3 separate regions of the Homo sapiens genome follow, and all the other regions are linked to region 3. Evidence: fine-mapped QTL for protein levels in blood plasma. Region 3 holds a variant in brackets. A gene starts in each other region. All regions are shown on their forward strands. Region 1 holds the start of ADAMTS15 (ADAM metallopeptidase with thrombospondin type 1 motif 15). Region 2 holds the start of BCL2L11 (BCL2 like 11). Region 3 overlaps KNG1 (kininogen 1).

What was found. PIP is the posterior inclusion probability: the model's chance that the variant is causal. The UK Biobank Pharma Proteomics Project read protein levels with antibody pairs (Olink). The fine-mapping took linkage between variants from a reference panel, not from the people measured, so its PIPs are less certain.
Region 1: it holds the start of ADAMTS15, and the variant in region 3 is fine-mapped to the plasma level of the ADAMTS15 protein (UK Biobank, PIP above 0.99).
Region 2: BCL2L11 starts here. The variant in region 3 is fine-mapped to the plasma level of the BCL2L11 protein (UK Biobank, PIP above 0.99).

The regions. Positions count from the first base shown.
Region 1 is chr11:130,447,331-130,450,085 of GRCh38, forward strand. It overlaps ADAMTS15 (ADAM metallopeptidase with thrombospondin type 1 motif 15), which reads left to right and starts at 1,315. Exons shown (of 8, transcript NM_139055.4): 1 at 1,315-2,600. The coding sequence starts at 1,644.
Region 2 is chr2:111,119,467-111,122,178 of GRCh38, forward strand. BCL2L11 (BCL2 like 11) reads left to right here and starts at 1,448. Exons shown (of 4, transcript NM_138621.5): 1 at 1,448-1,722. RefSeq lists enhancers at 653-732, 1,883-2,002 and silencers at 1,013-1,552, 1,886-2,180.
Region 3 is chr3:186,734,877-186,737,631 of GRCh38, forward strand. The region is part of intron 7 of KNG1 (kininogen 1); the gene reads left to right. Among named protein-coding and RNA genes, the nearest start is that of KNG1, 19 kb to the left of the region's middle. The variant A/C (reference allele first, on the strand shown) is at 1,515.

The sequences.
Region 1 (2,755 bases), not on the chromosome of region 3:
TATTTATTACCTTTTAAAAATGTACTTTGTGGCTAGGCATGGTGGCTCACGCCTGTAGTCCCCGCACCGGGAGGCCGAGGTGGGTGGATTGCTTGAGCTCAGGAGTTCAAGACCAGCCTGGGCAACACGGCGAAACCCAGTCTCTACCAAAAATACACACACACACACACACACACACACACACACACACACACACACACAAATTGGCCTAGCGTGGTGTCGTGTGTCTGTGGTCGCAGTTACTCAGGAGACCAAGGTAGGAGGTAGGAAACCAAGGTAGGAGGATCACCCGAGGTCGGTAGTTCGAGACCAGCCTGACCAACATGGAGAAACCCTGTCTTTACTAAAAATACAAAATTAGCTGGGCGTGGTGGTGCATGCCTGTAATTCCAGCTACTTGGGAGGCTGAGACAGGAGAATGGCTTGAACCCGGAAGGCGGAGTTTGCGGTGAGCTGAGATCGCGTCATTGCACTCCAGCCTGGGCAACAAGAGCAAAACTCCGTCTCAAAAAAAAAAAAATATATATATATATGTGTGTGTGTGTGTGTGTGTGTGTATGTATATATATATATGTATGTGTATATATATGTATGTGTGTGTGTGTGCATATATATATATACACTTTGTTTAATTGTAAGTGTGTTTAGTTTAATTTTTAATAATGTCCGTGATTAACAGCTGGCTGGCAAGATTCCTGAGAACTGAAGAGTTTGCCCCAGCCCATCCAGCACACCATGGGCCCAGGGCAGACCTTGGGGCTAGGCGGTCTTGGGTTCCAGAGGGCTCCCATGCCCCTGTCCTATTGCTCTTCTGGCAATAGGACATTTACGCGGGGGGGGGGGTGGTTCTTGATTCTGGGTCTTTTAGGGGACTCTGTGATTAAGAAACAGCAGGGATGTTGCAACAGCAGGGATGAGGTGGGCCTGGGGACGGGTCAGTGAAGGGTCTTCATTCCTAGCTGCTGACCTGATCTGCCCTGAGATAAAAGACTAAGACCCAGAGAGTGAACGCTGTCCGCGGGGGCAGAAGCGAGTGAGGCGTCGGGACAGTGGGGCATAACCAAGAGCAAAACGCAAACTGAGACTTCAGCGCCGGTTTCTCGGGCCAGCCCACGCCTCCTGCCTCAGCTCAATGCCACTCCCTCCCCGCCAAGTGGCTCTCCGCTCTGGAGGCGGGACCGAGTTCTCCGGTGGCCCCTGGAGGCTCCGGCAGCGAGCTCTGGGAGGCTGGGAGGGGAGTGAGGGGAGGGGCGCTGACTGGGCCGTCCAAAGAGGAGGGGGCCTTTAATAGGCTCGCCCAGCGCCTGGCTTGCTGCGCTGCGAGTGGCTGCGGTTGCGAGAAGCCGCCCGGCACCTTCCGCTAGTTCTCGGCTGCAAATCTTCGTCCTTGCACTTGACAGCGATTGTACTTAAGCTCCCAGGGCGCGCTTTGCTTGGAAAGGCACAGGTAGGAAGCGCGGGCTGCCGGGTGCACGCTCGCCGCCCTGGGAGGAGTCTCCCTCCCTTGGCTCTCCTTTCTGGGAACTGCCGGCTGTCCCGTAGCGTTGGCGGTTCCAGAGTGCGGGCTGCACGGAGACCGCGGCAGCGGCCGGAGAGCCCGGCCCAGCCCCTTCCCACAGCGCGGCGGTGCGCTGCCCGGCGCCATGCTTCTGCTGGGCATCCTAACCCTGGCTTTCGCCGGGCGAACCGCTGGAGGCTCTGAGCCAGAGCGGGAGGTAGTCGTTCCCATCCGACTGGACCCGGACATTAACGGCCGCCGCTACTACTGGCGGGGTCCCGAGGACTCCGGGGATCAGGGACTCATTTTTCAGATCACAGCATTTCAGGAGGACTTTTACCTACACCTGACGCCGGATGCTCAGTTCTTGGCTCCCGCCTTCTCCACTGAGCATCTGGGCGTCCCCCTCCAGGGGCTCACCGGGGGCTCTTCAGACCTGCGACGCTGCTTCTATTCTGGGGACGTGAACGCCGAGCCGGACTCGTTCGCTGCTGTGAGCCTGTGCGGGGGGCTCCGCGGAGCCTTTGGCTACCGAGGCGCCGAGTATGTCATTAGCCCGCTGCCCAATGCTAGCGCGCCGGCGGCGCAGCGCAACAGCCAGGGCGCACACCTTCTCCAGCGCCGGGGTGTTCCGGGCGGGCCTTCCGGAGACCCCACCTCTCGCTGCGGGGTGGCCTCGGGCTGGAACCCCGCCATCCTACGGGCCCTGGACCCTTACAAGCCGCGGCGGGCGGGCTTCGGGGAGAGTCGTAGCCGGCGCAGGTCTGGGCGCGCCAAGCGTTTCGTGTCTATCCCGCGGTACGTGGAGACGCTGGTGGTCGCGGACGAGTCAATGGTCAAGTTCCACGGCGCGGACCTGGAACATTATCTGCTGACGCTGCTGGCAACGGCGGCGCGACTCTACCGCCATCCCAGCATCCTCAACCCCATCAACATCGTTGTGGTCAAGGTGCTGCTTCTTAGAGATCGTGACTCCGGGCCCAAGGTCACCGGCAATGCGGCCCTGACGCTGCGCAACTTCTGTGCCTGGCAGAAGAAGCTGAACAAAGTGAGTGACAAGCACCCCGAGTACTGGGACACTGCCATCCTCTTCACCAGGCAGGTGAGTTGATCTGCCGTCACTTTGCACCCAGATAGTCCCGTTCTTTAGGGTCACCTCCCCTAGCGCTCCAAATCCCCTTTGTATCGTGCAATGCCTCCGAGTTTAAACCTCGTTGATCTCTTCCGACTCCAACTCTGTGGAGTTTCCAGGGAGAG
Region 2 (2,712 bases), not on the chromosome of region 3:
GGCTGCGCTGTGTCCCACTGACGTTACAGAAGCGCTTATGAATTTAAAAACTGCTCCAGGCGGCCGGACGGCGGGACAACGCCTCCTCACTTGCTCCTCTACGGCAAGGCCCCTTCCTTCTCCCTGCCGGCTGCGGTGGTGTGTAGGGTGGTCCCTTTACAGAGTTTCCTTAATCCATCTAGCCTGACCTCACCTGCGGGATGTTCCATTTCCCGATCCACCTCCCACACCCCCGCTGCAGTTGTCTAGAAGCTGGGGCTGGGGAACTGAGGCGCGGGAGGAGCAGACAGGAGGGCCGGGGTTGGGGCGCCAGCCACGCGTTGGGAGAGCAGACCCGGGTGCAGACTCAGAGGACTGGAGAGGCGGCATGGAGTTTGGTCTCCTGGGAGGTAGAGTGAGGTGCTGCGGACTCCAGGGAGGAAAGGGATGGGTGGGGAGGCGGGAGGGGAGGAGGGACGGGGTATTTTGCGCTCCCGCACCGCGGCCCGAACTCAGCTGTTCTGCCTTCACTGGCCTCAGCCAGTCGAGGGAGCTCCTACGAGGTTATCTGCGAGCCCAGCAAATCTTGGGGGTCCTAGCCAAATGCAGTGCGCAACGTTCTCTCTCACTTGGAGGCCGCCATTCACCTCGTTTTTTTTTTTCCTAAAAGGATTTTTTTTTCTGAGTGCTTTTTTCATTTCCCTATTTTACCTGCTTTGCACATGCCTCCCGCCCTCACCCGGGAGGCGGCGAAGACGCCCACTGGGACCGCGCCTGGCCGTTTTCTGGGCGCGTCCTGCCCCCACGGCCTCTGTCTCTTAGGGCGACTGGGCGCGGAAGAAAAGCTGGAGAGCCCCTGCGGGGTGGCAGGAGGAGGGTGCCTGAGTCCCGCGAGAGGCCCGGGCGAGGAAGATGCGCAGCCTGCTGATCCGCGTCCCGCCCGGCGCCAGGGACCCTCAGAGGGAGGAGAGCTCAAAGACCTCGCCCCGCGCCTTCGCGAGGACCAACCCAGTCCCCGCGCCTGCCCCAGAGCGGCTTAGAAACTCAGGGCACAGTGAGAGCGCAGGGCGCCTCCCGAGGCTTCACACCGCCGGCCGGGCCAGCGGAGGCTGTGACCGGAGCGCCCCCTCTGTGCCGCGCACGCCGCGGCCGCCGCCGGGTTGGGGTAGGTGAGCGGGAGGCTAGGGTACACTTCGGGGTGGGGGATGGGCGCGCACATGGCCGCCAGCAGGCAGAGTTACTCCGGTAAACACGCCAGGGACGGCGGCGCGCGCGGGAGGCAACCCAGCGGGGCAACCCCCGCCTTTACCTGTCCGAGCCTGCACGCGCCGGCGGCCGCGGCGCCGAGGGGGGCGGAGCTTGCCAGCCCGCGCGCCGGGGCGGGACCTAGCGGGGGCGGGGTCCGCAGTGATTGGGCGTAGGAGCGGGGCCGCCAGCCAGAGCTGGGCTGCAGGGCCGCGCAGGTTTCACTTCGCTCCGCGCAGCCGCCTGGTCTGCAGTTTGTTGGAGCTCTGCGTCCAGCGCCGCTGCCGCTGCCGCCGCCGCCGCCGCCGCCGCCGCCGCCGCCGCCGCCGCCACTACCACCACTTGATTCTTGCAGCCACCCTGCGAACCCTGCCACACTGCGATCGCATCATCGCGGTATTCGGTTCGCTGCGTTCCCGCCGCCACCGCCTCGGCGCCCTTTCTTGGCCCTTGTTCCCCCAAATGTCTGACTCTGACTCTCGGACTGAGAAACGCAAGGTAAATACCTCCAAATCCCGGGGCGCGGGCCTGGCACCGAAGGAAGACTAGCGCTGGAGCCCGAACGGCACCACCTACTGCCCGCTTCCCGTGCACGTGCGAGCGGAGACGCTTGCATCGGCGCCGCTTGTCGCCGGCGGGAGGTGGGGATCCGTGTGGATCGGGTTCCCTCTCGGGCAGGTTCTCTTTAAAGAAAAGTCGTTCACGCGGAACCTGCAGGCTCTTGGCCGAAGTGCGGCTTGGGACGGGATGCTGCGCGCGGGCCTGGTGAAGGGTCGTAGGTCCGGGCAGGAGGAGAGGCAGCGCGTGCCTTTCGGCGCCGGCCCGGGAGCTGAGGACCTGCTCGTAGTATCGGGCTGTGCGCCCAGCTGGAAAGTCTCGCCGCCGGCTCCGGCGCCCTCAGAGTAGCGGCCGCGCAGTGTGAGGGTGTTTCGTGTCTTGGTTTTTTGGGGCGCGTGGGCCTGTTGCGGAGGATTTGCGGAACTGCGGTGGTGATTTAACTGACGAGACACGGCTTTTCCTTTTACTCATTCAGGCCAAGGTTTCGGGGCCACTGCTGCGTTCGCTTTCTCAAGCGTACCTGGGGCCCCTGCTTGCTCTGCAGGAGTCCTGCGGCCTGTGCCATCCGCACGATTCCCTGGCAGCGAGAAATCTAGGTCCTCCCCTGACCACCTGGACCGCGCAGGGGACTAGTCGCGGCCGGCAGAACCTGCTCGGTCCCTGGGCCGGGCTATCTTAGCGGCTCACGCATGCCCGAGCACACCCGACCCGGTTCGCGGTGCAGGCTGGCGGCGCCGTGCCCTCTGGGACCTGTTGCCCCAGGGTTGGCGCTGCTGGTGGAGGGCCCGACGGACGCCAGGGCGGAGGGTGTGAATTTACTCGATGGTCGCGGACGTGCGCGTCCGCGGCCAGGGGTGGCTCTTCGGCTTTGACTCGTGTCTGCGGCGCACCAGGAGAGAGAGGAAGTTGTTGGAGGAGAATAGTTGCCAC
Region 3 (2,755 bases):
TGATTTTTAGGTGATGGAATAACACTACTTTAATCTTTCTAATTTTCTGTATTACTTTTGTAACTGAAAAAAAGTAAACAAACTAGATTAAAGTAAATCAAAACTGATACTTTGATCTCTCTGCTACTTGAGCACTTGTTTCTATCCCAGACACAACCACCCTCTCTCTCTGATTTCATTGCCATATGACCACGTTAGGTTTACTTGAAAGGGACGCCAATCTATGCTATTCATGCTTTTTTCAGCTTTAACTTCTCACTTTATATTTCTGCTTTCTTGTGAAATTATTTTATTCTTTTTTCGTTGTTGTTTTTTAAGAGAGACGCGGGCCAGACATGGTAGCTCATGCCTGTGATCCCAGTACTTTGGGAGGCAGAGACAGGAGGATCACTTGAGCCCAGGAGCGAGACCAGCTGGAGCAACATAGCAAGACCCTGTCTCTACAAAAAAAGAATTAAAGGCCAGGCGTGGTGGCTCATGCCTGTAATCCCAGCACTTTGGGAGGCCGAGGCAGGTGGATCACCTGAGGTCAGGAGTTCGAGACCAGCCTGACCAACATGGTGAAAAACCATCTCTACTAAAAATACAAAAATCAGCTGGGTGTGGTGGTGGGTGCCTATAATCCCAGCTACTCGGGAGGCTGAGGCAGGAGAATCACTTAAACTCGGGAGGCGGAGGTTGCAGTGAGCAAAGATCATGCCATTGCACTCCAGCCTGGGTGACAAGAGTGAAACTCCATCTCAAAAAATAATAAAAAAAAAAAAGAATTAAAAAATTAGCTGGGTATGGTGGTATGTGCTTGTAGTCCCAACTACTTTGGGAAGCTGAAGTAGGAGGATTGCTTGAGACTGGGAGGTCGAGACTGCAGTGAGCTGTGATCGTGCCACTGCACTCTAGCCTAGGTGATAGAACAAGACCCTTTGGGCAACAGAGCAAACAAAAAGAGAGAGAGATGGGGGTCTCACTATGATGCCCAGGCTGGACTCGAACTCCTGGGAGCAAGCAATGTGCCCATCTCAACCTCCCAAGTAGCTGGGATTACAGGCGCACACCAATGCACCCAGCTCCCTTATTCTTTATTCTGAATGTTGTAGGAATAGGCCACCATGTATTGTATGTCAGAGGTTTGCCATCAAAAACAGAACCACTCATTCTCAAGCATGAATATCTAGTCTTCTTAGTAGTTACAGTTTTCTCTGTGGATTAATGAATCAACATTCTAGTATGCATATGTGTCTACATTAAGGATGTCAGGGGGACACAAAGAGGTAACCCATCAGATAGCTGCCAAGTCAATCTGAATATTGCAAGAATTTCAAACTTACTTTAGAGAGATAAATCTTTACTAATTTTTGCATTTAAAGAGAGCAATTTGGTTGCTTGGACATAGTCACCCAAGGCAGCCTTGATGGAAGCAGCCAATTTACTGGAAATCAATTAAACATATGATGAATTTGCTAAAAGCTAGTCTCCAAAATGACCAATTTGCCAAATTGCTAAATATTTATAGTTTT[A/C]ATCTTGCCTTGGGTTTGCACATTTAGTCCTGTTTGGATGCATGTTGATTCCACGTTGGGTTCATATTTCAGATATGAAACACTTCCTGAATCTTCCATTTTCACACATTAGTGATTACAGTTTCATATAAGTTTTATTTTGCCCTACCACCACTGCTGCTGTCCCCAAGGCTGTTGATGCTCCTGTCTGCCTCTGCTGAGATGAATAAACTTCCAAGATCTGTGTGTGCACATGCAGAAATTTTTCCTTTGACAAAGTCCTAGGAATGTCAAATAATATGTAGATATATAAGACTTGATGCAAATTGCCAGAATCACCAAATATTTGCAATGATGCCAATTTACATTCACATCACCTGGGTATAAGACACCAGTTGAGGCCAGGCGTGGTAGCTCATGCCTGTAATCCCAGCACTTTGGGGGGCCGAGGCGGGCGGATCACCTGAGGTCAGGAGTTTGGGACCAGCCCAGCCAACATGGTGAAACCTCATCTCTACAAAAAACACAAAAATTAGCCAGGTGTGGTGACACTTGCCCGTAATCTCAGCTACTTGGGGGCGCTGAGGCAGGAGAATCACTTGAATTTAGGAGGCGGAGGTTGCAGTGTGTGTCACTGCACTCCAGCCTGGGTGACAGAGTGAGACTCCGTCTCAAAAAATAAAAGAAAAAAGACACCAGTTGAGGATCTTAATTTGAATTCTCTTCCTACCAGCAGTGACTGAGGCTGCTTGATTCCTATGCCTGGCCAATGCCACGTATCATCAATTTTTGTTTTCATCTTTGCCTGCATGGAAGGCTAACAATGATGTCTCATTGCTTTTTTAATGTGCATGTTTTTGTTTATTAATGAAGTTAAACTTTTTTTTAGGCTTAATGACCGTTTTAACTTCTCTGAAATACCTGCTCATGGCTTTTGTCCATTTTTAGTGTTGGGCTTTATATTCATACAGACATTGATTCTATATCATAGTTTTCCCAGCTTGCCTTTCTACTTTGCTTATTGTGATTTTTCAGAAGCAGTTTTCATTTTTCTCTAGTCAAGTTTTAGTATTTTCCCCTTCCTTCAGATTTCTTTCCTCTGCTTTTCACCTAAGAAAGGCCTTCCTCATCCTGGGTTTTGGTGAATATTTATTTATTTGTTTAGTTGTTTTTTGTTTGTTTGTTTTTGTTTTGTTTTGTTTCCCGAAACAGAGTCTCACTCTGTCACCCAGGCTTGAGTGTAGTGGCGTGATCTTGGCTCA